7 linked regions of the Homo sapiens genome follow. The protein of the gene in region 1 purifies or fractionates together with the protein of each later gene. This does not show direct contact. Each region holds a gene or a part of one and is shown in the gene's direction. Other genes may lie near its edges. The genes, in order: MSTN, CELSR1, MEGF8, GAS6, OXSR1, JAG2 and POGLUT2.

What was found.
Region 2: the proteins of MSTN (region 1) and CELSR1 purify together in Homo sapiens (affinity purification with mass spectrometry; one large-scale study listed by BioGRID and IntAct). This does not show direct contact.
Region 3: the proteins of MSTN (region 1) and MEGF8 purify together in Homo sapiens (affinity purification with mass spectrometry; one large-scale study listed by BioGRID and IntAct). This does not show direct contact.
Region 4: the proteins of MSTN (region 1) and GAS6 purify together in Homo sapiens (affinity purification with mass spectrometry; one large-scale study listed by BioGRID and IntAct). This does not show direct contact.
Region 5: the proteins of MSTN (region 1) and OXSR1 purify together in Homo sapiens (affinity purification with mass spectrometry; one large-scale study listed by BioGRID and IntAct). This does not show direct contact.
Region 6: the proteins of MSTN (region 1) and JAG2 purify together in Homo sapiens (affinity purification with mass spectrometry; one large-scale study listed by BioGRID and IntAct). This does not show direct contact.
Region 7: the proteins of MSTN (region 1) and POGLUT2 purify together in Homo sapiens (affinity purification with mass spectrometry; one large-scale study listed by BioGRID and IntAct). This does not show direct contact.

Annotation. Positions count from the first base shown.
Region 1 is NC_000002.12:190,059,930-190,063,991, reverse strand, and holds the start of MSTN (growth/differentiation factor 8 preproprotein), read left to right. Parts: upstream 1-1,262; 5' UTR 1,263-1,395; coding exon 1,396-1,768; intron 1,769-3,556; coding exon 3,557-3,930; intron 3,931-4,062. UniProt on the Homo sapiens protein: Acts specifically as a negative regulator of skeletal muscle growth.
Region 2 is NC_000022.11:46,360,674-46,363,647, reverse strand, and holds the end of CELSR1 (cadherin EGF LAG seven-pass G-type receptor 1 isoform 1 precursor), read left to right. Parts: exon of another isoform or gene 1-400; coding exon 401-425; 3' UTR 426-460; coding exon of another isoform or gene 461-470; 3' UTR 471-2,474; downstream 2,475-2,974. UniProt on the Homo sapiens protein: Receptor that may have an important role in cell/cell signaling during nervous system formation.
Region 3 is NC_000019.10:42,356,635-42,360,134, forward strand, and holds part of MEGF8 (multiple epidermal growth factor-like domains protein 8 isoform 1 precursor), read left to right. Parts: intron 1-139; coding exon 140-347; intron 348-769; coding exon 770-950; intron 951-1,509; coding exon 1,510-1,673; intron 1,674-2,152; coding exon 2,153-2,320; intron 2,321-2,463; coding exon 2,464-2,608; intron 2,609-3,500. UniProt on the Homo sapiens protein: Acts as a negative regulator of hedgehog signaling.
Region 4 is NC_000013.11:113,833,077-113,836,576, reverse strand, and holds part of GAS6 (growth arrest-specific protein 6 precursor), read left to right. Parts: intron 1-941; coding exon 942-1,064; intron 1,065-1,812; exon of another isoform or gene 1,813-1,893; intron 1,894-1,904; coding exon 1,905-2,026; intron 2,027-2,997; exon of another isoform or gene 2,998-3,085; intron 3,086-3,500. UniProt on the Homo sapiens protein: Ligand for tyrosine-protein kinase receptors AXL, TYRO3 and MER whose signaling is implicated in cell growth and survival, cell adhesion and cell migration.
Region 5 is NC_000003.12:38,228,037-38,231,536, forward strand, and holds part of OXSR1 (serine/threonine-protein kinase OSR1), read left to right. Parts: intron 1-1,650; coding exon 1,651-1,699; intron 1,700-2,328; coding exon 2,329-2,394; intron 2,395-3,500. UniProt on the Homo sapiens protein: Effector serine/threonine-protein kinase component of the WNK-SPAK/OSR1 kinase cascade, which is involved in various processes, such as ion transport, response to hypertonic stress and blood pressure.
Region 6 is NC_000014.9:105,151,777-105,155,276, reverse strand, and holds part of JAG2 (protein jagged-2 isoform a precursor), read left to right. Parts: intron 1-2,985; coding exon 2,986-3,116; intron 3,117-3,219; coding exon 3,220-3,339; intron 3,340-3,500. UniProt on the Homo sapiens protein: Putative Notch ligand involved in the mediation of Notch signaling. Involved in limb development.
Region 7 is NC_000013.11:102,786,379-102,788,976, reverse strand, and holds part of POGLUT2 (protein O-glucosyltransferase 2 isoform 1 precursor), read left to right. Parts: intron 1-1,053; coding exon 1,054-1,143; intron 1,144-2,598. UniProt on the Homo sapiens protein: Protein glucosyltransferase that catalyzes the transfer of glucose from UDP-glucose to a serine residue within the consensus sequence peptide C-X-N-T-X-G-S-F-X-C. Can also catalyze the transfer of xylose from UDP-xylose but less efficiently.

The DNA of each region.
Region 1 (4,062 bases):
TCTTAGGAATCCTTAGCTTCCCAAAAAGGAGTAGGAAAAAGAAATCTCCTTTGGCCTAGAAATATCTTCTGTTTCTTGCTGGCTATGTTTGCTTAGCTCTTTAATAGTTCATTTGACTAGATCTTGTGGCTCCCAAAGCTAAGGTTGAACGTTTGATCCCTACAGAGGCCACTTAAATTTAGAGAACAAAAAGCTCTATTCTCTGCTCCCAGACTTTACCCCAAATCCCTGCCAGGTGTCTGCCCTCTGGTCAAAATGAGAAATTGGCAAAGGGGTGCAAACATATCGCAGTATTGGGAAACAACAAAAGGTCACCCCTTTATCATGATGCTCTTTCTCTTTTATGTGCTCATAATATTCTGATATAATTTATAGAGAATAGATACTGCACTTTTTACTCTCTGGATATTTACTGCTGGAAATCTGAGGCAAACTGTAATAATCTCTGCCATGCCAGTTATAAAATTCATTATCTTAGTCTATGTTCAGAGATTTTTCTACTAGCTGGCATTACCCTCTTGGTAATAAACAATGAAAAACACATCTTCTGAGTTATGTTAATCTGCATCTTTAGAATAGGAAATAATAGCACTCAGTCAAAAGTTCAGTATAATTTTCATATTAATAAAAGACATGAAACTATGTAAAAATAATTCCATGCACAATATGTTATAATAACAATGACTTCCAATATTTACTAAGAATTTAGTCAGAAAACAAGTTTCTCAAATTATAGATGAAAATTCTCAACTAGTATCATAATCTTAACTTTTAATTCAGGTCTTCCTAATTTTTATTTTCCTAATTACTTGGCACTAAAAATAATTTAATACAACAAATAAAAATATTTTCTACTTCAAATACTTGCCTAAACAATATAAAATCATTTTAGTTTTTGAGGAAGTAATATTTCATATTTTAAATATGTAGTATAAATTAAAATTGACTTATTTAAATTACAATAAGAGTTGTGTGAGGATTAGTAAGATTTAAGTACAGTTTATATTATTGCCAACATAGACTTTTGTTTTTCAAATGTCACAAATATCTTTTATTATTTGTAGATTTATTTCTTTTATGAAGTAGTCAAATGAATCAGCTCACCCTTGACTGTAACAAAATACTGCTTGGTGACTTGGGACAGACAGGGTTTTAACCTCTGACAGCGAGATTCATTGTGGAGCAAGAGCCAATCATAGATCCTGACGACACTTGTCTCATCTAAGTTGGAATATAAAAAGCCACTTGGAATACAGTATAAAAGATTCACTGGTGTGGCAAGTTGTCTCTCAGACTGTACATGCATTAAAATTTTGCTTGGCATTACTCAAAAGCAAAAGAAAAGTAAAAGGAAGAAACAAGAACAAGAAAAAAGATTATATTGATTTTAAAATCATGCAAAAACTGCAACTCTGTGTTTATATTTACCTGTTTATGCTGATTGTTGCTGGTCCAGTGGATCTAAATGAGAACAGTGAGCAAAAAGAAAATGTGGAAAAAGAGGGGCTGTGTAATGCATGTACTTGGAGACAAAACACTAAATCTTCAAGAATAGAAGCCATTAAGATACAAATCCTCAGTAAACTTCGTCTGGAAACAGCTCCTAACATCAGCAAAGATGTTATAAGACAACTTTTACCCAAAGCTCCTCCACTCCGGGAACTGATTGATCAGTATGATGTCCAGAGGGATGACAGCAGCGATGGCTCTTTGGAAGATGACGATTATCACGCTACAACGGAAACAATCATTACCATGCCTACAGAGTGTAAGTAGTCCTATTAGTGTATATCAACAGTTCTGCTGACTGTTGTTCTAGTGTTTATGAGAAACAGATCTATTTTCAGGCTCTTTTAAACAAGCTGTTGGCCTGTATGTAAGTAGAAAGGAAAAGAGTTTCTCTTTTTCAAGATTGCATGAGAATATATTAATGAGACAAAAATCTGCTGCATTATTTGTTTTCTTATAGAGACAAAAAACTAAAAAATAAAGTACTTGCATAGCATTAATTTAATAAGGCAAATATAGATAGCATGCTTATGCTTTCACAATAATACCACCAAGGCAAGGACTGGGAGATACTACAAGCAGTGTTTAAAACTTACATTAGATTTTAGAATTGTATTTAGTTGTGTAAAATAAGTTTTTTTCACTAATAACAGAAAAAAAAAAAGAAACTTGCTGGATGTTTAAGCTTACTTGAGCACTGCTGAAAACCTCAAGTGATTTCTGTTATTTGAAACTCTCTCAGTAATTTTTTTGTTCTTCACAGTTAAAAATTTAATTTTGAGAGCTATTACACTGAAGAATATGCAAAAATTAAATATCTTAATGTGTTAGTAAGAACAATAATGAAGTAAACATAGCATAATAATCATCATGAACTAAATATTAGAAAATGCCTAAGAAATAAACATTTTAATTGGGTAGGTTATGGCTCACAAAGTCCTCCTTGTACCTTGACCATAGTACTATTATTGAGAGTACCCAGTTTGTGTACTTCCAAGCAGGCACAGTGCTTAATAACCTTCTAAAATATTTTATTCTTCCTGAGAGGGAGGGCTTTTACCTGTAGTATCTACACTGCTTCTGACAGATAACATATTTCATACAATTCCTTTTGCAGTCAGCTCAAAAGAATACTTTCTCCAGGAAAGAGAAACAGGCACCTTGACAGAGAAGGCATGGCAAGAAAAATTTTGTGTTACCTGTTATCTTGCTTTAATACAATGCTTTATATACTTTAAACAAGACTCCAAACAGTTTTAAAATATTATTTCCCTTATTAAGTAATCAGGTTACAATGCAGCAAAGAATTTCCATTTAAGACTCTGCTATCAAATAGGTCTGGAGCAGATTTACCTTTTATAGACAATTTTGGAAAACCAAAATAAAAGAAATTGTTAGTGCTTGTGCTTACATGACAGCCTGGCCCTAAAGACAATACTTTCGAACTTTTCAGATAGCCTGAATATAACATCAAAATTTTTGTGTTAATTATCTGCTTAGTTTTGCTCCTTTAAAAGGTTATTCCAAAGCCAAAATGTAACAGATGTACTGTGTTTTCTACTAATTCCTGAGGCTCAGTAAGTTGCTCAGTGTGTCTTGTCCCCAGGTAATTCAGGCCTGGGGGAAGGGTTCCTTCTTCCAGACTGATTGGTACAGCTGCTCAGTAAGTGTAACTACTCAGATTCCCAAAGAATTCTAAGTGGTTGTTCCTCCACAGTGTCTCTTGTTCTCTCTAATCATCATCATTTTAAAATTTCATTCAGCGTTCATTACTTCATAGAACCTTCCTTTGTCCATAGTTCTCTGGAAGGGGAATAGATTCCTGATGAACAGCTGAAAATACATACGTCTGAAAAATTCTGAAAAGCTAGGGTAATTATTTTCTTTGACATTTTTTTGAGTTATAAAGTTCCACACGGTATTTCATTTTAAAAGACTGCATAGGCATACATTATCTTAATTTAAAAAAATGCTCAACTATTAATATGGAGGGGTTTTGTTAATGGGAAATAATTTCAGCAACTTTTCTTTTCTTATTCATTTATAGCTGATTTTCTAATGCAAGTGGATGGAAAACCCAAATGTTGCTTCTTTAAATTTAGCTCTAAAATACAATACAATAAAGTAGTAAAGGCCCAACTATGGATATATTTGAGACCCGTCGAGACTCCTACAACAGTGTTTGTGCAAATCCTGAGACTCATCAAACCTATGAAAGACGGTACAAGGTATACTGGAATCCGATCTCTGAAACTTGACATGAACCCAGGCACTGGTATTTGGCAGAGCATTGATGTGAAGACAGTGTTGCAAAATTGGCTCAAACAACCTGAATCCAACTTAGGCATTGAAATAAAAGCTTTAGATGAGAATGGTCATGATCTTGCTGTAACCTTCCCAGGACCAGGAGAAGATGGGCTGGTAAGTGATAACTGAAAATAACATTATAATAACCTTATGTTTTTATTCATAATATGAACAAACAATAGTGGAAAATAGCTACAAATTCCCTAAGCTCATAAGCTAGACAAAGGTATCTTACCCCAACGGTAG
Region 2 (2,974 bases), on another chromosome or scaffold:
GGTCCCGGAATGCCAGGGGTGAAGGGGGCGGGGTGGAGCTGGGGTCCTGGCCCCAGACCTCTCCCTGTCGCCCCTCCCTCCCTCCAAACTCACAAGGGAGAAGCCAGGTCTTCAGAATGCCCCTTCCAAAAGTCACTGTAGAGATGGCCGGTTTCTAACGTGGATTCCTTGCGCTCTTCTGAAAGACCAGCAACACAGAGGCCCACAGGCTGGTCCTGGTCCCCTCTCCTGCCTCCCAAGGGCAGCCTCATCCAACATGAGCTTGCCCTCCCTGGAGCCCCCAGACGCCCCCTCTACCCTGATGGGGTGATCCTGCCCCCCCGTGTGACAACCTTGGGCCCCACCAAGCCGCTACCCTCACTGACCCTTCACCTGCTTGCTGGCTTCTTCCCACGCGCAGAGGCAGTAATGAAACTTCAATTTGAACCATCAGTAATGAAACTTCAATTTGAACCATCAGGAAACCGTGAGGCAAGCCCGTCACCCCACACAGGCTGCGGCATCACCCTCAGACCTTGGAGCCCAAGGGGCCACTGCCCTTGAAGTGGAGTGGGCCCAGAGTGTGGCGGTCCCCATGGTGGCAGCCCCCCGACTGATCATCCAGACACAAAGGTCTTGGTTCTCCCAGGAGCTCAGGGCCTGTCAGACCTGGTGACAAGTGCCAAAGGCCACAGGCATGAGGGAGGCGTGGACCACTGGGCCAGCACCGCTGAGTCCTAAGACTGCAGTCAAAGCCAGAACTGAGAGGGGACCCCAGACTGGGCCCAGAGGCTGGCCAGAGTTCAGGAACGCCGGGCACAGACCAAAGACCGCGGTCCAGCCCCGCCCAGGCGGGCATCTCATGGCAGTGCGGACCCGTGGCTGGCAGCCCGGGCAGTCCTTTGCAAAGGCACCCCTTGTCTTAAAATCACTTCGCTATGTGGGAAAGGTGGAGATACTTTTATATATTTGTATGGGACTCTGAGGAGGTGCAACCTGTATATATATTGCATTCGTGCTGACTTTGTTATCCCGAGAGATCCATGCAATGATCTCTTGCTGTCTTCTCTGTCAAGATTGCACAGTTGTACTTGAATCTGGCATGTGTTGACGAAACTGGTGCCCCAGCAGATCAAAGGTGGGAAATACGTCAGCAGTGGGGCTAAAACCAAGCGGCTAGAAGCCCTACAGCTGCCTTCGGCCAGGAAGTGAGGATGGTGTGGGCCCTCCCCGCCGGCCCCCTGGGTCCCCAGTGTTCGCTGTGTGTGCGTTTGTCCTCTGCTGCCATCTGCCCCGGCTGTGTGAATTCAAGACAGGGCAGTGCAGCACTAGGCAGGTGTGAGGAGCCCTGCTGAGGTCACTGTGGGGCACGGTTGCCACACGGCTGTCATTTTTCACCTGGTCATTCTGTGACCACCACCCCCTCCCCTCACCGCCTCCCAGGTGGCCCGGGAGCTGCAGGTGGGGATGGCTTTGTCCTTTGCTCCTGCTCCCCGTGGGACCTGGGACCTTAAAGCGTTGCAGGTTCCTGATTTGGACAGAGGTGTGGGGCCTTCCAGGCCGTTACATACCTCCTGCCAATTCTCTAACTCTCTGAGACTGCGAGGATCTCCAGGCAGGGTTCTCCCCTCTGGAGTCTGACCAATTACTTCATTTTGCTTCAAATGGCCAATTGTGCAGAGGGACAAAGCCACAGCCACACTCTTCAACGGTTACCAAACTGTTTTTGGAAATTCACACCAAGGTCGGGCCCACTGCAGGCAGCTGGCACAGCGTGGCCCGAGGGGCTGTGGAACGGGTCCCGGAACTGTCAGACATGTTTGATTTTAGCGTTTCCTTTGTTCTTCAAATCAGGTGCCCAAATAAGTGATCAGCACAGCTGCTTCCAAATAGGAGAAACCATAAAATAGGATGAAAATCAAGTAAAATGCAAAGATGTCCACACTGTTTTAAACTTGACCCTGATGAAAATGTGAGCACTGTTAGCAGATGCCTATGGGAGAGGAAAAGCGTATCTGAAAATGGTCCAGGACAGGAGGATGAAATGAGATCCCAGAGTCCTCACACCTGAATGAATTATACATGTGCCTTACCAGGTGAGTGGTCTTTCGAAGATAAAAAACTCTAGTCCCTTTAAACGTTTGCCCCTGGCGTTTCCTAAGTACGAAAAGGTTTTTAAGTCTTCGAACAGTCTCCTTTCATGACTTTAACAGGATTCTGCCCCCTGAGGTGTAATTTTTTTGTTCTATTTTTTTCCACGTACTCCACAGCCAACATCACGAGGTGTAATTTTTAATTTGATCAGAACTGTTACCAAAAAACAACTGTCAGTTTTATTGAGATGGGAAAAATGTAAACCTATTTTTATTACTTAAGACTTTATGGGAGAGATTAGACACTGGAGGTTTTTAACAGAACGTGTATTTATTAATGTTCAAAACACTGGAATTACAAATGAGAAGAGTCTACAATAAATTAAGATTTTTGAATTTGTACTTCTGCGGTGCTGGTTTTTCTCCACAAACACCCCCGCCCCTCCCCATGCCCAGGGTGGCCGTGGAAGGGACGGTTTACGGACGTGCAGCTGAGCTGTCCGTGTCCCATGCTCCCTCAGCCAGTGGAACGTGCCGGAACTTTTTGTCCATTCCCTAGTAGGCCTGCCACAGCCTAGATGGGCAGTTTTTGTCTTTCACCAAATTTGAGGACTTTTTTTTTTTGCCATTATTTCTTCAGTTTTCTTTTCTTGCACTGATCTTTCTCCTCTCCTTCTGTGACTCCAGTGACTCAGACGTTAGACCTCTTGATGTTTTCCCACTGGTCCCTGAGGCTCTGTTCACCTTTCTTCATTCTTTTTTCTGTCTGTCCTTCAGATTTGGCTATTTCTGGTGCTCCGTCTTCAAGTTCACTGATTTTTTTTCCTCTGTCGTCTTAATTCTGCTACTGAACTCACCCAGTGAATTTATTTCAAATACTGTAATTAAGTTTTAAAATTTCC
Region 3 (3,500 bases), on another chromosome or scaffold:
GGTGCTACTCCAGGGAATGGCAAGAGGACTGTCATAGGAAGGTCACCCCAGGGGATGCGGGGACATCTGTCAGGCAGGGTCACCTTGAAGGATGCTGGGATGACTGTAATGAGGCTGCTTTTTTGCACCCTGGCCCCAGGTACTCAGTGAGTGAGCGGCGGTGGACACAGATGCTGGCGGGAGCCGAGGACGGGGGCCCAGGCCCATCGCCCCGCTCCTTCCATGCAGCCGCATATGTGCCCGCTGGCCGTGGTGCCATGTATCTGCTGGGGGGACTTACCGCTGGAGGCGTCACCCGTGATTTCTGGGTCCTCAACCTCACCACCCTGCAATGGCGGCAGGAGAAGGTGAGCATCTCTCCCCAGCCCACTCCCCAGCCCTCACACTGGGCCCTGACAGAGACAGCTGTGGTAGCTCCTGCCAGCTCCATCCCCAGAGGAAACAGAAGCCCCAAACTTGAATTTCCTCGGCCATCCTGGGTCACACTGTTGTCCTGAGCCAGTCCTGGGCTGGGACACAGCTTCACTCAGCAGCAGAGAGAGGCCAGGGGAGCAAGGGCTTCCCAAAGCCACACCAGGCTTGAGCAGGTGGAAATGCCAAGGGGCCCACTGTGCCTCTGCCAGGACCCAGGCTGGTCCGACTGGCCCTGGGGGGGTCATTCCCTCCTTAGTACTTCAGGGAGGACTGTGGGGGGCTGAGGCTCGCTTCTACCCACAAGGTGACCCCTGACCTCTAGCCCCATCGGTGACCTTGCCCCTCCATCCCTCAGGCCCCCCAGACCGTGGAGCTGCCAGCCGTTGCTGGTCACACCCTTACTGCCCGCCGAGGCCTGTCTCTGCTCCTGGTGGGCGGTTACTCCCCGGAAAATGGCTTCAACCAGCAGCTGCTGGAGTACCAGCTGGCAACCGGCACCTGGGTGTCAGGAGCCCAGAGTGGGACACCCCCCACAGGTGGGGCTGGGGACCGGGAGGGGACAGCCCCCGTGGACCTCCCGGGCATCTGGGCTTCCTGTGGGCTCTCCATCCACTGCTGTGCTCTGTGGCCACCTGTCTCCCTCTCTTTCCCATCCCCATGCAGATTCTCAGGGCACCCTCTTGAATGTTCAGATTTTCTGACTGTCCTTCCCAGACTCCACAACTAACTGCCCACTCCCGGCCACATGTGGCCACCGTCCCCTGCCCCCAGGGTCTGAGCTCCCTGCTTCTCAAGGGTTCTTCCTCGATCACACCTCCTTTCTTTGATCACTGTCCCCTAGACATTCTGGACGCCCTGTCTCCCTCCCGAGAGCCTGGCAGAACTTACTGCCAGTTGAGGACTCCCTTCTCTTTCCCAGAGTCTCTAATGATTGTCCATTTGAACCCAACTGAGAGGGACGGGTGGAGAGGGGCTCCCAGGCCTCCAGTCTCAGGGCCGGGGAAGGGAGTGGTCACCGAACAGGGGACCGGGAGGTCGGCGGGGTCAGTGCTGTTGTCAGCCCCTCCCCCAGCCTGTCACCCTGCCCCTCACCAGGTCTCTATGGTCACTCTGCTGTCTACCACGAGGCCACCGACTCCCTCTACGTGTTTGGGGGGTTCCGATTCCATGTGGAGCTGGCGGCCCCATCCCCCGAGCTCTACTCCCTGCACTGTCCTGACCGCACCTGGAGTCTGCTGGCCCCTTCTCAGGGGGCAAAGGTCAGGAAAAGAGGCTCAGACCCAAGGATGTATGGGGCAGGAGGGAGGGGTCCTCTTTCCCAGTGCCCCAGGGACTGGCTCCATCCCAGATTCCTGCTTCCCCTCCTTTCTATGTTCCCTAACTAAGCGACACCCCCACATCTCCCCCGCTTCCATCCCTGATTTGGAGGAGAGAACCCGAGGCCAGGAGGTCAGAGGCATGAGTTCTGCCCAGCTCTCCCCTGAGTCTTGGTGCGGCCCTGGCAGGCCCCTTCCCCGTCCTGGGTTTTTCCACTCGTATAAACCAGGACTGAGGCTCCCCGCTCTTTCTGCCTTCAAGGCCAAGGAGAATGTGTGTGGGAGGGCAGGGAGCCCTGTCTGCACTGGTTAGAGAGGCTGGTGGTTTCAGTCCACACGTTTCCAAGCCCGTCTTGGAGGCAGGGGGCTAGAAGCAAGAGACTCGAGGAGCCTCAACCCCAGGACGCCCCCACTGTCACTAGCGAGATCGTATGAGGAATGTGCGTGGCTCATCTCGGGGTCTGGGCCAAGTTCCTGGGGAGCAGCCTGGGTCATGGGGGTTCCGGGAAGTCAGGAAGAAGATGGCTCTGTGGGCTGCTCTTGCTGGTACAGGAGGTTTCCTGGAGGAAATCTCACCTCACCTGAAGGAGGTGAGATTTGAAGAGGGTTAGGATTGGGTGGGCTGGTAGGGGGGGATAGGTAGGGAAGTACAGGGGTGGCTGGAGGGCTAAGAGGGAGCAGAGGACAGCTCTGACAGGCTGTCCTGTCCCCCCACCCCCCGTCTCCCCAACAGCCCCGCCCCCGGCTTTTCCACGCCTCAGCCCTGTTAGGGGACACCATGGTGGTTCTTGGGGGGCGCTCGGACCCTGACGAGTTCAGCAGCGACGTTCTGCTCTACCAGGTCAACTGCAATGCCTGGCTTCTGCCCGACCTCACCCGTAAGTCCCCATTGTGGCTCCCAGGAGGCTGAGGGACATCCAGGAGGAGCCCCATCCCCATCCTGGGACTCCCACTCCTTAGGAGTCACTGGGCCCCTGCAGACCCACTGGCAGAGCTCCCGCTCTTCTGGATTATCTGAACACCAGGACATGCCCTCCTTCCTTTTTTTTTTCTTAGAGAAGTTTATTTTTTACTCTGTAAAAGTAACAATGTTCACTATATATAATTTGTAAAATAGGAAAGAAAAAAAAACACCCATAATCCCTCTCTCTAGAGACAACCACTATTAGACATGGGGGTGTTTCCTACCAGTCTTTGCTGTTCATAGGTAGAAGCATGCCTGTCACTTGCCTTTTTATTTCAATGTTGTGAGTGACTGTTGTGAGTGTGTTTCTGGGACTGTCTCCTTTTCTTTTTGCTTCTCTCTCTGACCCTTTGTCTCTTTTTCTATTTTTATTAGCAACAGGGTCTCACTGTGTTGCCTAGGCTGGAGTGCAGTGATGCTATCTTGGCTCACTGTAGCCTCTGCCTCCAAGGCTCAAGCAAGCAATCCTCCCTCCTCAGCCTCCCAAGAAGCTGGGACTACAGGCATGCCACCACGCCTGGATAATTTTTTTTTTTTTTTTTTTTTTGTAGAGACAGGGTTTTGCTATGTTGCCCACGCTGGTCTTGAACTCCTGGGCCCAAGCAGTCCACCTGCCTCAGCCTCCCAAAGTGCTGGGATTTAATTCCCTTTTTCTCTTAATCTGTCTTTTCAGATTCAGTAGACAGAGACTACTTCATGTCTGTGTCTCTCAGTTATTTTTTGAGGATTTAAAAAAATTGAGGTGAAAGTCACATAACATAAAATTAACCATCTTAAAAATACATTGGCTGCAGCCTGGGTGACAG
Region 4 (3,500 bases), on another chromosome or scaffold:
CCCCTCCCCACCCCCTCCCTCACCTCCTCCCCCACCCCTCCCTCACCTTCTCCTCTTCCTCCCTGCTTCTCCTCCTCCTCCCCCTCCGTCGTCCTCCCCCTCCGTCCTCCTCCCCCTCCGTCCTCCTCCTTCCCTTCCCCATTCTCCTCCCCCTCCCCCTCCTCCTCCCCCTCCTCCTCCTCCCCCTCCTCCCCCTCCTCTCCATCCTCTCCCTACCCCCTCCTCCTCCCCTCCTCCCCTCCCCCTCCTCTTCTCCCCCTCCCCTTCTCCCCCTCCCCCTTCTCCCCCTCCCCCTTCTCCCCCTCCTCCTCCTCCTCTTCCTCCTTCCCCTCCCCCCTTCCTCCTCCCACTCCTACTCCCCCTTCTCCTCCCCCACCTTTCTCCGTGCCCCTGCCTTTGCTCTCCTCTGGTGACTAAAGGGCTCTTCATTTCAGGGTTGCCCCTCCTACCCCAGGGTGCTTGGCCGTAAACAGCATCTGTCCCACATTAGATGCTCAAGTCTTAGGATTGTGGTTTAACCCGGTAGTGAAAATTGATTGAAACCAGTAAATGCTTCTCTTTGGGGTTGGGGTTTTAGTTTCAAATGCCCCCGGGGGGTTACTTTTTACGGCCCCGTGTCCTGTAGCACCGTCATTTAAATGGAACAGCACAGCGTGCACCGCCGCCCCCCACCCCTCCACCAAGCAGGGCCCTTCCCAGCTCTCCACCTGCTGGGCTGAAGTCAGCCTTCCCAGCCGGGCCTTGATCAGAAGCGTGCACCAACACCCCGGGAGCTGCCCGGTCAGGGGAGGAGGGCAGGGAAATGGGGCCAGGGCGCGCTGGCCCCACAGAGTCTGGATGCGACCTCTGGGTGGTGCCCTGGCCAGTCCCTGCAGCCGCCTGCCCCAGCCCCGTCTGAGATGCCGCTGTGCTGCGGTTGGCCGGTTTTTTTTTGCTTGCAGACATAGACGAGTGCGCAGACTCGGAGGCCTGCGGGGAGGCGCGCTGCAAGAACCTGCCCGGCTCCTACTCCTGCCTCTGTGACGAGGGCTTTGCGTACAGCTCCCAGGAGAAGGCTTGCCGAGGTACCCACGCCACGCGGTCACCCTCGCTTTCTCTGACGCCCAAGTCTAGACACGGGTGCCAGTCACTGCCCGAGCCGGTTGCTAACAACCGGGTGCTTCTGGTGAAAGAAAGTCTCTTTCTCCCTGTTTCTATCAGCCTGGTAATGGCCTGTGCTACCACCATGCCCGCACACACGTGAGCACACACAGGCACCCATGCCCCTTGTGCACATGAACGAACCGCACACATGCATATACACCGCATGTACACACGTGTGTACCCTTCTCCACCTGCATAGACGGGGCCTCTCCCCAAAGGGACGGGGAGCAGCAAGCCTCCCTCTACTGTTCTCTCTTTCCAGCCGCCATGGGGAGGGCCCTGTTGGCCGTAGAGCCTCTAAGAGGGGCCGTGCCCCCAGTGATGGGAACAGTGGGGCTGAGTAGGCAGACAGAGAGGGTGGGGAAGCCCAGGCTGCCTGCACTGACCTCCATTTCCCACCACAGCTGTCGGCCCCTCTGTGCTCCGGGGGACACCTCACTGCACAGCCCAGACCCTGTGCTTCCCAGACCTGCCTTCCACACCGGCCCGGCAGCGGGGGTGGGTCTGGCTCGTTGGGAGCACCCTCCTGGGACACCTGCGACATTTTTATTCCCTCAAGAAAGAGCCCGGGCAGGAGCAGGCCGAGGGTGCAACCTAGCTTTCCAGTGGGGGGGGACGCGACCCCCAAGCCGCCCCCGTTAGAATCTGCATGTAATTCCTTGAGCGCACCTTGCGTGTGGTTTGAGCAATCGCGGTGTGATCCCACGGCGGGACAGCGTAGAGGCCTCCCCGGCTCACCGCCGCTTCCCTCTGGCTGGCAGATGTGGACGAGTGTCTGCAGGGCCGCTGTGAGCAGGTCTGCGTGAACTCCCCAGGGAGCTACACCTGCCACTGTGACGGGCGTGGGGGCCTCAAGCTGTCCCAGGACATGGACACCTGTGAGGTAGGCGGCCCCTGGCCCCGCGGGCCCTTCACGGTGGTTCCGGGGGCCCTCGCCGGTGGGGGCTTTCGGGAGAAACACTTCCGTGAAGACCTGGCCTTTGCTAAGGTGTTGGGGATCTCCAGGGCCATGTGGAGGTTTGGGATGAGAAACGCTTCTGTTCCCTGGAAGATGTTTGGTTGTATTTATAGAGTCTCTATGGCAACTCCCAGCTCACAGTGGATCAGCCTGGTGTGGACCCCAGTGTGACACTCACGGGGGCACGGTCCCCACTCTGCCGCGTGCCAGGGAGCCAACGTGACCGACCTGTCACACCGGTGCCTGTCACACCGACCTGTCACACCGGGGCCTGTCACACCGGTGCCTGTCACAGCATGACCTACCTGTCACACCGGGGCCTGTCACACTGGTGCCTGTCACACCGACCTGTCACACCGGGGCCTATCACAGCATGACCTACCTGTCACACTGGTGCCTGTCACACCGACCTGTCACACCGGGGCCTATCACAGCATGACCTACCTGTCACACCGGGGCCTGTCACACTGGTGTCTGTCACACCGACCTGTCACACCGGGGCCTGTCACAGCATGACCTACCTGTCACACCGGGGCCTGTCACACTGGTGCCTGTCACACCGACCTGTCACACCACTGCCTGTCACACTGACTTGTCACACCAGTGTCTCACACCGACCTGTCACAACAGTACCTGTCACACTGACCTGTCACACCGGTGCCTGTCACACCACTGCCTGTCACACTGACTTGTCACACCAGTGTCTCACACCGACCTGTCACAACAGTACCTGTCACACCGACCTGTCACACCGGTGCCTGTCACACCACTGCCTGTCACACTGACTTGTCACCGGTGTCTGTCACACCGACCTGTCACACTGGTGCCTGTCACACTGGTGCCTGTCACACCGACCTGTCACACCGGTGCCTGTCACACCGACCTGTCACACTGACCTGTCACACCGGTAGGAATGCAGTACCCACATGTGGACGTTTCTGGGCAGGGCGGCTCTTGTCTTTCCTCTTCAGCCTGGGCCTGTGCCTGGGGGTTGATGAGAGTGAGCATTTATTTAAAAAGCAAAACCACAGGTGGAAAGAGTCACCAGGACAGCTTCTCGGAGTCGCAGACCTGGGATGCAGCCGTGGGGCTCTTGGGTCTGGGCTGCGACGTTCAGGGCTTCCAGCCAGCCCTCGCCTTGAGGTTCTTTGCCTCGCTGCCTCATGTACTCATGCAGAGGGTGTCGGACCCCTGCGAGATGTCCAGCTCACCCTGGCTGCCCACGGTGGGCAGGGCAGGCCTGGCTCAGCCCCAGCCCCTCCATCTTCCAGGGGTGTCAGCTCACACCGGCTTTGGTTCTGTCCCCCTTCGGGCAGCGTGGAGAAACCACAGCCCAGAACAGGGAACTTTCCAGGACAGCCATCTTCAAGGCATCCATATCTATTTCATAATAGTGTAT
Region 5 (3,500 bases), on another chromosome or scaffold:
CCTACTGCATGCCTAGGCTATTTAGTGTAGCCTGTTGCTCTGACTACTGTCAGATACACAGTATATTGTTGGCCAAAGCATTAAGAGGCTCATGACTGTGACTTTAACCCAGAGTTCTCCAGCTAGTCAGACTATCATTCAAGAATGAGCATGAAATTATTTTGCACACAGAAATTGAGTTTTCCAGTCACGTTCTGTCACTTAAAGAACCCATAAGTTGTACTTTAGAAAGAAGGAAATGAAGTCAGAAGAAAGGAATGAATAATAAGAAGCAATGTTGAGCAATCACATTGTTGAGCATATTGAGAAGCAATTGTTGAGCATATGAAAAAATAAGAGTGATAATGTAGGATTTCAGTTTGCATAGCACTTTCACATTTATTCAGCTTTTTAATCTTTATAATAATCATCTGAGGTGCTGGTTCTTAAACTTGAATGCCTATTGGAATTACCTGGGGAGTTTTAAACATTACTAAAGCCAATTAAAGATTCTGCTTTAATTGGTTTGAGGTACAGCCTGGTCATTGGTTTTGTTTGTTCGTTTGTTTGTTTTTGAGACAGTCTTGCTTTGTCGCCCAGGCTGGAGTACAGTGGCACAATCTTGGCTCACTGCAACCTCCGCCTCATGGGTTCAAGCAATTCTCCTGCCTCAGCCTCCCAAGTAGCTGGGACTACAGGCGCACGCCACCATGCCCTGCTAATTTTTGTGGTTTTTTTAGCAGAGACTGGGTGTCACCATATTGGCCAGGCTGGTCTTGAACTCCTGATATCGTGATCCACCCACTTTGGCCTCCCAAAGTTCTGGGATTACAAGCATGAGCCATGGTGCCCTCTGGTCATTGGGATTTTTACATTCTTCCCAGATAGTTCAATGCACAGCAGTGTTTAAGAACTTAGGGGCTTGGCCAAGTAATACTGAACCTTAGAGAGGTTGTGATTTGCTCAGGATCAGGTAGGTGTGTGGCAAAATCAGGTCCAGTCTCTTAAATGTTAAATTCTTTATTCTGAATGATACTCTTTTAAAAGCTTGTAAAATTGACAGTCGTGTCTTTACTTAAAAGGAAATAAGACCATGAAGAAATGAGTTAAACACTGAGTTTTGTTAAATTTGGGGAATATACTTTTAGAATTTTCATTTTTAAAGGGAGATTGTGAAATCTGTTTTTAGGGATCTGTGGTTACCTAAATTGAAGGCTGGCAGGCTACCATGTGGCAAGAAGTGGAGGTCTTGATTTGGTCCATTTCCTCTTTGTGTGTTTAAATATATTTTTATGCCTTGCTAAAAATGTTAGATAGATATTTTCTAGCTTACTTATTGGGAAATAATATTAAATATTAAATTAATATTATTAAATAGCAAATATATTAGACTCTATTAAGAAATCATGCTTCCAGAAAAAACATTTCACTAATGATTTTTTCAAAGAATCTACAATAATTATCAGAATATTTGTTTTGAGTTTTTTATTTTATTCAATGTCCTGTATCAAGTTTATTTTACTTTTGCTTTTTAGCAGTTTAAGGAAAGTAGAGTATACTGAGTTTTTATTTTGCTGTTGAAAAAAATTTTTTCTCATTTTTGATGATGGAATCTGACATTACACTTGAATTAATTATAAAAACTTTTCTTCCCTCCCTTCCTGGTTTTAGACCAACAGCAGCAGAACTATTAAGGCACAAATTTTTCCAGAAAGCAAAGGTAGGAAATTCCAGCTTTTGATTATGTGTGTTCATAGGATGCTCCTCAATTACTCAGATTATGTTCAGTGCTTAGAAGTTGGATGATTATGTTTGGAAAAATGATGGTAGATAAAATAATTGCAGAAAGCACTATGTATACAGTCTTTGATAATTAAGATAATTGCTTCAGAATTTAGTAAATCCGTTTTTAAATATTAGGTTAAACTGATCATAGGAACAATGATTATTAAATTTTGCCATTATAAATATAATTTGTGAAAAATACCGAACTCTGGTTTTAAGGTTTACTACTGAATTTGTAAACATCTCATTTCCCAAATATATCAGATAGTAGGATGTTACTGTAGTTGGAAATGTAGGACCATGATCTCAAAGAACATACAGTACAGCAAACTCTTCATAGACAGTGGTTCATACAGTGTACTACATCTTAATTTTCTGCCTCAATTTATGAAACTGTGGTAGTAACATACTAAAGGAGCTTCAGAGTGAAAGAATGAAAGTTTTTCTCACACTTCATTACAGAACAGTTACTATATCACATTTTGATTATGGTGAACTTTTTTGTGGGTTTTTTTTGGTACCTTAAAAACTTGTAAGAACAAAATACTTACTTTTCCTCTCCAGAATAAAGAATTTCTTCAAGAAAAAACATTGCAGAGAGCACCAACCATTTCTGAAAGAGCAAAAAAGGTAAATCAGAATTTAACTCAGTTTTCCTGAAGAATTTACTTTATTTTTGCATTTTGAAAACATGTTAAGTAATACATTGTTAATAGTATATGAGAATTACTGGTTTTCTGTCGATCCTTTCTAAAGCATTCTTTGATACATTCATTCAGCAAATATCTTTGGTCTACCATATGCCTTGGTATTACTCTGCTATCTTTTAGGATGAAAAGGGATGCTAGACAGTAATTGGTAAATTAATTCTAAACTCTGTTTGATAACTGTTTCCAGCTACCAGAGTGAGTTGTGATTTTACATGACATTTATAGCTTTGGGTATAAGTCACAGTACCCTCTTTGGAACTCCAAATTTTCTACTGCCTTTACAGAAAGACTGAAAGAACTTTATTACGCATATGTAATTTCTAAGAAGTTTGGTCATGATGTGAGCATACAGAATGCTTTAATATCTCAGTTTGGGCAGAATATATTAATCTTCCTGTCCATGATACTTTTATGAACCTCTGTGAGAGCAGGGAGAAGAAAATCCTCCCTTTTCCTCACTCTTACTTCTCTGCTCAAGCAGACTTATCCAATGTGAAGGAAAGGAGGCAGTTTGGGCTTCTGCTGATGATAGACTTGAAGAAGGTAAAGGTCTTACACCTTGTATAATATAGTGGTAGGCCTGTCCAAGAAGTTAGAAGCATTATGTCTAGCAGTGGCTTATTCTCTTCCGTAGATCTCACTGCTTGGGAATTTTGATACATTCCAAGAATTTAACACAATGAAGAACCAGAAATGTATATTAAATACTTGGAAATGATATTCTTAATAAGCACTGGTAAAACAGTTAACTTGTCTCTATTTTAGAGATATATCTTTTTCAGTGGCTATAATGCATCGTTACATATCAGAATCACTTGGGGACTTAAAAAAAAAAAGAAAGAAACATGGACAATGTCATCCCAAACCAATTAAAGTCATGACTCTAGTGGATGAGACCTGGACAATTATTCTCATGGATAGCTACTAGGTTAAAAACTCACTTGGCTCATTCCTTCACTTTATGTCAAGTCTACTCAATTGGCCTTTCCTCAGAATAATATTCTCTGATTACTAAAACAGTACCCT
Region 6 (3,500 bases), on another chromosome or scaffold:
CCCAGAGATGGGGCATGGGCAGAGGACACGGTAACCCTGCCCATGGGGAGGGGGTGGGCGGCGAGCGGCCGGCAAGTGACACCAGCAGGCGAGGGGCGGCAGAGCAGACCAGTGGTGGGAGCTGAGGCCTGCAGGACCAGGGACAGAGGAAGGGGCTGCTGGCAGGTTTGTAGCTGGGCAAGGTGGGTGGAAGGGCTGTGGTAGCTGTTGAGTGGGGAAGCACCAGACGGGAGGCTGTGAGGGGGAGGCCGCTGTGGGGCATGTGGGGGTGGTGGGGGAGGGGCCAGCGGGATGGGGAGGGGGTCAGTGGAAGGGGGAGAGGCGCACGGGTCCTGCAGACATCCTGGGGTGGAGCCCAGGGGTTTGTGGATGGATTTGATCAAGCAGGAAGGGTGTGGAGTCAGGGAGAACCCCAAGCTGCTGAGTAGCAGAGCCATGGTGGCAGGAGGAATGCCACAGAGGAGCAGGCGGGGCCGGGGTTAGCTGGATGTGGAGAGGCGATGCCTGCCCTGTCCCTGGAGACACCCAGAAAGCTCGTGGGAGAGGCCTGGCCTGCGCCACGCGGGGCCTGTGGGGGGTGGCATTCAGGCGGTGACGGGAAAGTGGGGAAGGCAGAGAGGAGGGAGGCCAAGGAGCAAGTCCCGGCTGCCACAGGTCAGGGCGGATGGATGAGGAGTCAGCAAGGGCCTCCACAAGGGAGTGTCCGGGGTCTTACAGCCAAGTCCAGATGGTGGAGGCCTCTGGACCCAGACCAGAGTGTGGGGGATCCAGCCAGGGGGGCTGGCAGCTTTGCCCTAGAGTGGAGCAGAGAAGTCAGCAGGGCAACCAGAGGGGCTGGGGCCCAGGGTCTGGGGTGGGCACGGGCTTCGAGCCGTGGCGCTCACTGTGCGTGAGCAAGCTGGGGAGCCCGAGAGAGGGGCGCGAGCGGGTGGAGAGACAGCAGGTGGAGGTGAGCACCGCCCTCCAGCCAGCCTTGGATTGCAGGGGTCCCAGGACCTCCCTCTGTGGAGTGGGTTTGCCTCCATGGGACGAGGACACTGGGGCACAGAGAGCCTACTGATTTCCCCAGGGTCACACAGCGTGGCGTTTTGGAGAGGAGTCGGGGAGTTTGGGAACCAGCTGAGTTGGGAGCCAAGGTGGGGAGGTGGGTGACCCTTCCACAGGCCCCACGGTTGAGTGGCCTGGAGGGTACAGTGAGGAGCTTTCCCGGCCAGTCCCAGAGCGGGGAGGCAAGCAGGGCTGGGGCCGCCCACCCGGTCACTTGCACACACAGGGATTCCCGGCAGGTTGAGCGAGTCCCAAGTCAGCTCAGAAAGTGCAACAAGGTGGACCTGGTCTGGGCAGATGTAGATGTAGATCTACGGGAGTCGGCCCCACTCACCCTCGCCTGGCCCAGTGTGCATCACACAACCTGGATGGCAGTGCCACCCTCCCTGGATGGCTGCTGGCTGGCAGCTTGAATGTCACACCAAGGCTGGAGGAAGGCAGCAGAGAAGTTGGCCATCCCTGCCCTTTACCCGCAGGAAGATGAGCCGGAGTCTGGGGGGCCTGGTGGGTGGGGGCAGTAGGTGAGCTCCGCCTGCCCCTCTTGCTGGCCCTGTCGGGGAGGCCCAGCTGTTGCTGACAGCCTCGGCTCAGGTTCCAGTGCAGGACGCCCCCCCACCGGATGCTGCGGAGATGGCCATGCCTTCCTGCCGCCGCCTCTCCAGGGCCCTGGGGCTGCTGGCTGGGGAAACCAGGAGGTGGGGGCCTGGTGTGGGCTGCCCTGCCCAGGGTCGAGAGCACGCCCTTGGGACCCACGAGGTCTGGGCTCTGAGCCCGGCTGTGGCCGCTCTCTGGCCGATGACCCAAGGTGTGTCACAGCCCCGCCCTGAGCCTGGGTCTCTGTGTCTGTGGAGGAGGGATTCTAGGCGGGATGTGAGGCCACCCACGCGGACCACTGTGCATGCTGGGCTGGATACTGGAGACACGTTCTTCCCGGCCTCAGTTTCCCCATTTGTGGCAGCTGAACTGGGCTGATAGGCCTTCGGTGCTGGCTGTGTGGCTTGAGGGCGGCTCAGGAAGGGCCGTGGTTCTTTCCTTTTACAAAAATAAAGTGTGGCGGGTGCCGGTGTGGAAGTGACGTGGCCTGGATGACATTCCCGTCCTGCAGGACCGGAGAGTTCTAGGAAGGGCCCCCCGGGAGTCCCGGCAGGGCCTGGATGGCAGCCTGCTGAGCCTTGGGGTCGTTGCAGGCTCTCTCCCCTGACGGAGGCACCCTCAAGTCAGGCCATGTTCTACCCTGGCCACCTGCCCTCTCCTGGGGGACTCCCAAGACAGGACGTTGGCCGATAGCCTGGGGCAGGGCGAGTCCTGGTGGTTGTGTCCTGGGGGGTGCAGCTGGGGGTGCAGCTGGAGCTCCTGCAGAATCAGGAACTACCCTGGGCAGGGCTGGCCCAGGCCAGCCTGTGGGCCTCAGTAGCCCCATCTGTGAGATGGGTACCTTGTGGGACTTTACTGGGAGCGAGCGAAATGACTGCCTTTGAGGTGGGGGCGAGGGCACGTGCTGTGCCCAGGGCCACATGGCCGAGGCAGAGCCAGGAGTGCTCCCCTGCTGCCCGCTGGCCTACCCAGCCCCTGGTGCCTCCCGGCCCTGGCAGCACCTTGTGAGTCCGAGCCGGCATTCTCATCCCCGGGGTCCCGGCAGGGCCTTCCTTTCCTGGTGCCTGCTCTCGGGGCCCAGCTCACGGGTGAATCCCAAAATAGCTCAGGGAGGAGTGACGGGACAGCTGGGGCTGACCGTCGGCAGCCAGCGGCCGGGAATGCCCGTGACAGTGGGGCTGGCCGGCAGGGCTGCAACCCCTGCCTGGCTGGGGCTGCTCCAGTTCAAAGGCCTGAGGCCGCCCGCCGGCCCTGGGTGTGGCGTGGGTGACTGTGCCTGGCTCCCCTGCCACCCTTTCAGGCACCACAGCTCACTGGGTCTTGCGCCCCTCCTCCTTCCCCCAGGTGCAGCTACGGCTGGCAAGGGAGGTTCTGCGATGAGTGTGTCCCCTACCCCGGCTGCGTGCATGGCAGTTGTGTGGAGCCCTGGCAGTGCAACTGTGAGACCAACTGGGGCGGCCTGCTCTGTGACAAAGGTAGTGGTAGGGGGCGGCAGGCCTAATGCTCTGCCATCGAAGTGTGGGTTGTGGGGGAGCGGGGGGCCGGCTTTTCCCCTGAGCATCCCACCCCTGCCCCCAGACCTGAACTACTGTGGCAGCCACCACCCCTGCACCAACGGAGGCACGTGCATCAACGCCGAGCCTGACCAGTACCGCTGCACCTGCCCTGACGGCTACTCGGGCAGGAACTGTGAGAAGGGTACGTGGGGGGCTGGCCACCCAAATTCTGGCCAGGCAGGGACTGGTTCCCTGGGGAGCCGGTCAGGCCCCATCCCTCTGGCGTCCTGTGTGGTGGGCCCCTGACCCCCAGCTTGGGAACCTGTGGGCTTGGGGAGGAGTGCTTGTGGAAAGCTGGGGGCC
Region 7 (2,598 bases), on another chromosome or scaffold:
GTTTCCCAATATCATGGGTCCTTTTGAAATGTATTGTACCTGGAGAGCATCCAGGATGTTCACGTAATAGACTTTGGCCTGTAAATGGGAAGCTGCCTGCCCATAGATGGCACGGCAGTTCCCCTAGGCTGAACACAGCGGGCACTGCATCTTACATTAACTCTCCACTCTGCATGTGAAACAAAAAGCTAGGCTGGGTGCGGTGGCTCGTGCCTGTAATCCCAGCACTTTGGAAGGCTGAGGCAGGCAGATCACCTGAGGTCAGGAGTTCAAGACCAGCCTGGCTAACATGGTCAAACCCCATCTCTACTAAAAATACAAAAATAAGCTGGCGTGGTGATGGGTGCCTGTAATCCCAGCTACTGGGGAGGCTGAGGCAGGAGAATCACTTGAACCTGGGAGGCGGAGGTTGCAGTGAGCCGAGACCACACCATTGCACTCCAGCCTGGGCAACAAGAGCAAAACTCCGTCTCAAACAACAACAACAAACAACAACAACAACAACAAAAAGCTAAACTGTGGCCTTGATTACACTTTCTCTTTCAAGTAGCGTTGCTCTGAGCCACAAGCATTGCCTCCGCTAGCAATGTGAAAATTGTAAGATGGCCAGTCTGGCAGAAGTCACTAACAGGCTCCAGGTTAAAATGAGGGATTGATTCAGAAGTAGATGCAGCCATAAATACAGAAATAAAGAGGGATGGAATGCAATAAACTTTAAGCTAATTGTCTCCTGAAATTTGTGAAGGCAGCTGGCTAAGCTTCATCTTGCGTTTACAAAGTCATCAGTTTGCTTGGTGTACAACCTTGTCTCTCCAGGAGAGGCTTAGTTCTAGAAGGTCCAATATGACTTTTCAAACTTTTAAGTCTTAGAAACCTCCCTCTGATTTAAACAAACATACTCTGTTAAATGTTCTGTTTTACCATGAGACTACCCCCAAAGATATTATTTCCCACAGTTGCCCCAATGTATACATACTCTGAAGAGCAGTTTGCAGATGCCTGCATGGGAAAAATGGATTCTATTACAGGATTTTGTCGTTGTTCTTCCTGTAGGCCAAAAAGATAGCAAAAGCAGGACAAGAATTTGCAAGAAATAATCTCATGGGCGATGACATATTCTGTTATTATTTCAAACTTTTCCAGGTCAGTATTTTCCAAGAAAATCATCACGTAACTTATAAGTAGACATGTTAAGAACAAATAATATTTTACTTAACAATTTCTAAACATATGTTACTATAGGGAGATATATATACTTCTGTGGATGAAAATCAGAGACAAATATTAAGTAATCATAAAAAAATAGTTGAAAACCAAAGATTAGCTAATGGAAAATGTTACAATATTAAGCGAAAACTATTAATATTAGAACTATGTGATGTCTGACTAAGAAATTGGCCTCTGATCCTACAAAGTTACAGTGCATGGATTTGTATGTTCTCTTTGTGTTACATTGCTGCTGCCTTACCATTTCTTTGTCTAAACAGTGCCAGGTGTGTTTGGGCCTCTTGTCTTGACTCTGTATGAGCCATGACTTCCCTTGGAAATTATTTCCATGGACCTAAGCATTTAGAGATTGTAATCAAGCATATCCGACGATTTAAAGGACTCTTTTAAAAATGTGGTAGTAGGCCGGGTGCGGTGGCTCACACCTGTAATCCCAGCACTTTGGGAGGCTGAGGCAGACAGATCACCTGAGGTGAGGAGTTTGATACCAGCCTGGCCAACATGGTGAAACCCCGTCTCTACTAAAAATACAAAAATTAGCCGGGTGTGGTGGTGCACACCTATAATCCCAGCTATTCGGGAGGCTGAGGCAGGAGAATCACTTGAACCCGGGAGGTGGAAGTTACAGTGAGCCGAGATCGTACCCCTGCACTCCAGCCTGGGTGACAAGAGTGAGATTCTGTCTCAAAAAAATAAACAAACAAAAAAAAAAAAACAAAATCAGGTAGTAAACAAGTTCTTGGCTAATAACAGTACTAGATCTAGAGTAAGAGTTTTATCTCACAGTTGCAGATACTGAGCCCCATATCTGAGGCTCTGCTACAGATCAAAGTTGGTGTATTTCTGGCCTGTACTGGCTCCTCCCGATTTTGTAACCTTCCCTTGATAGAGGGAAGCAGAGGACAAACCGTGTAAAATGAATAAACTGGGGGGATTTACCATGTGAATTTCTAAGGATCCATGGGGCAGTGTTCATTCATTTAGCATAGGTACTTAGCACAGTGCTTCACTCAGAGTAAGCACATGATAAATGAAGATGATGATGGAGGCTTGTGCAAGCCATGATAAGGAAAGCAGAATAGTCTCTGTCTTCACATTCTCAGTCTAGGGAAGATTGTGTGCAAAATTATTTTTACTGTGAGGCAGAAGACGGTTAAAAAAAAAAGTCATGGAAATTTAGGATAGCATAAAGAGGTGTCTGTTAGGAATAGGCAGCCAGTGTTCAAAGGATGGCCTCCTCTCAGATGCTCTACTGTTGATGTTCAGAACTGGTATATATGACGGACTATGCAGATCACAGTTTGACACACATGAGTTAAATGAATCATAGTCTTCATATATTCTAGCCTCTCTCATTGGGTGGATATAAAG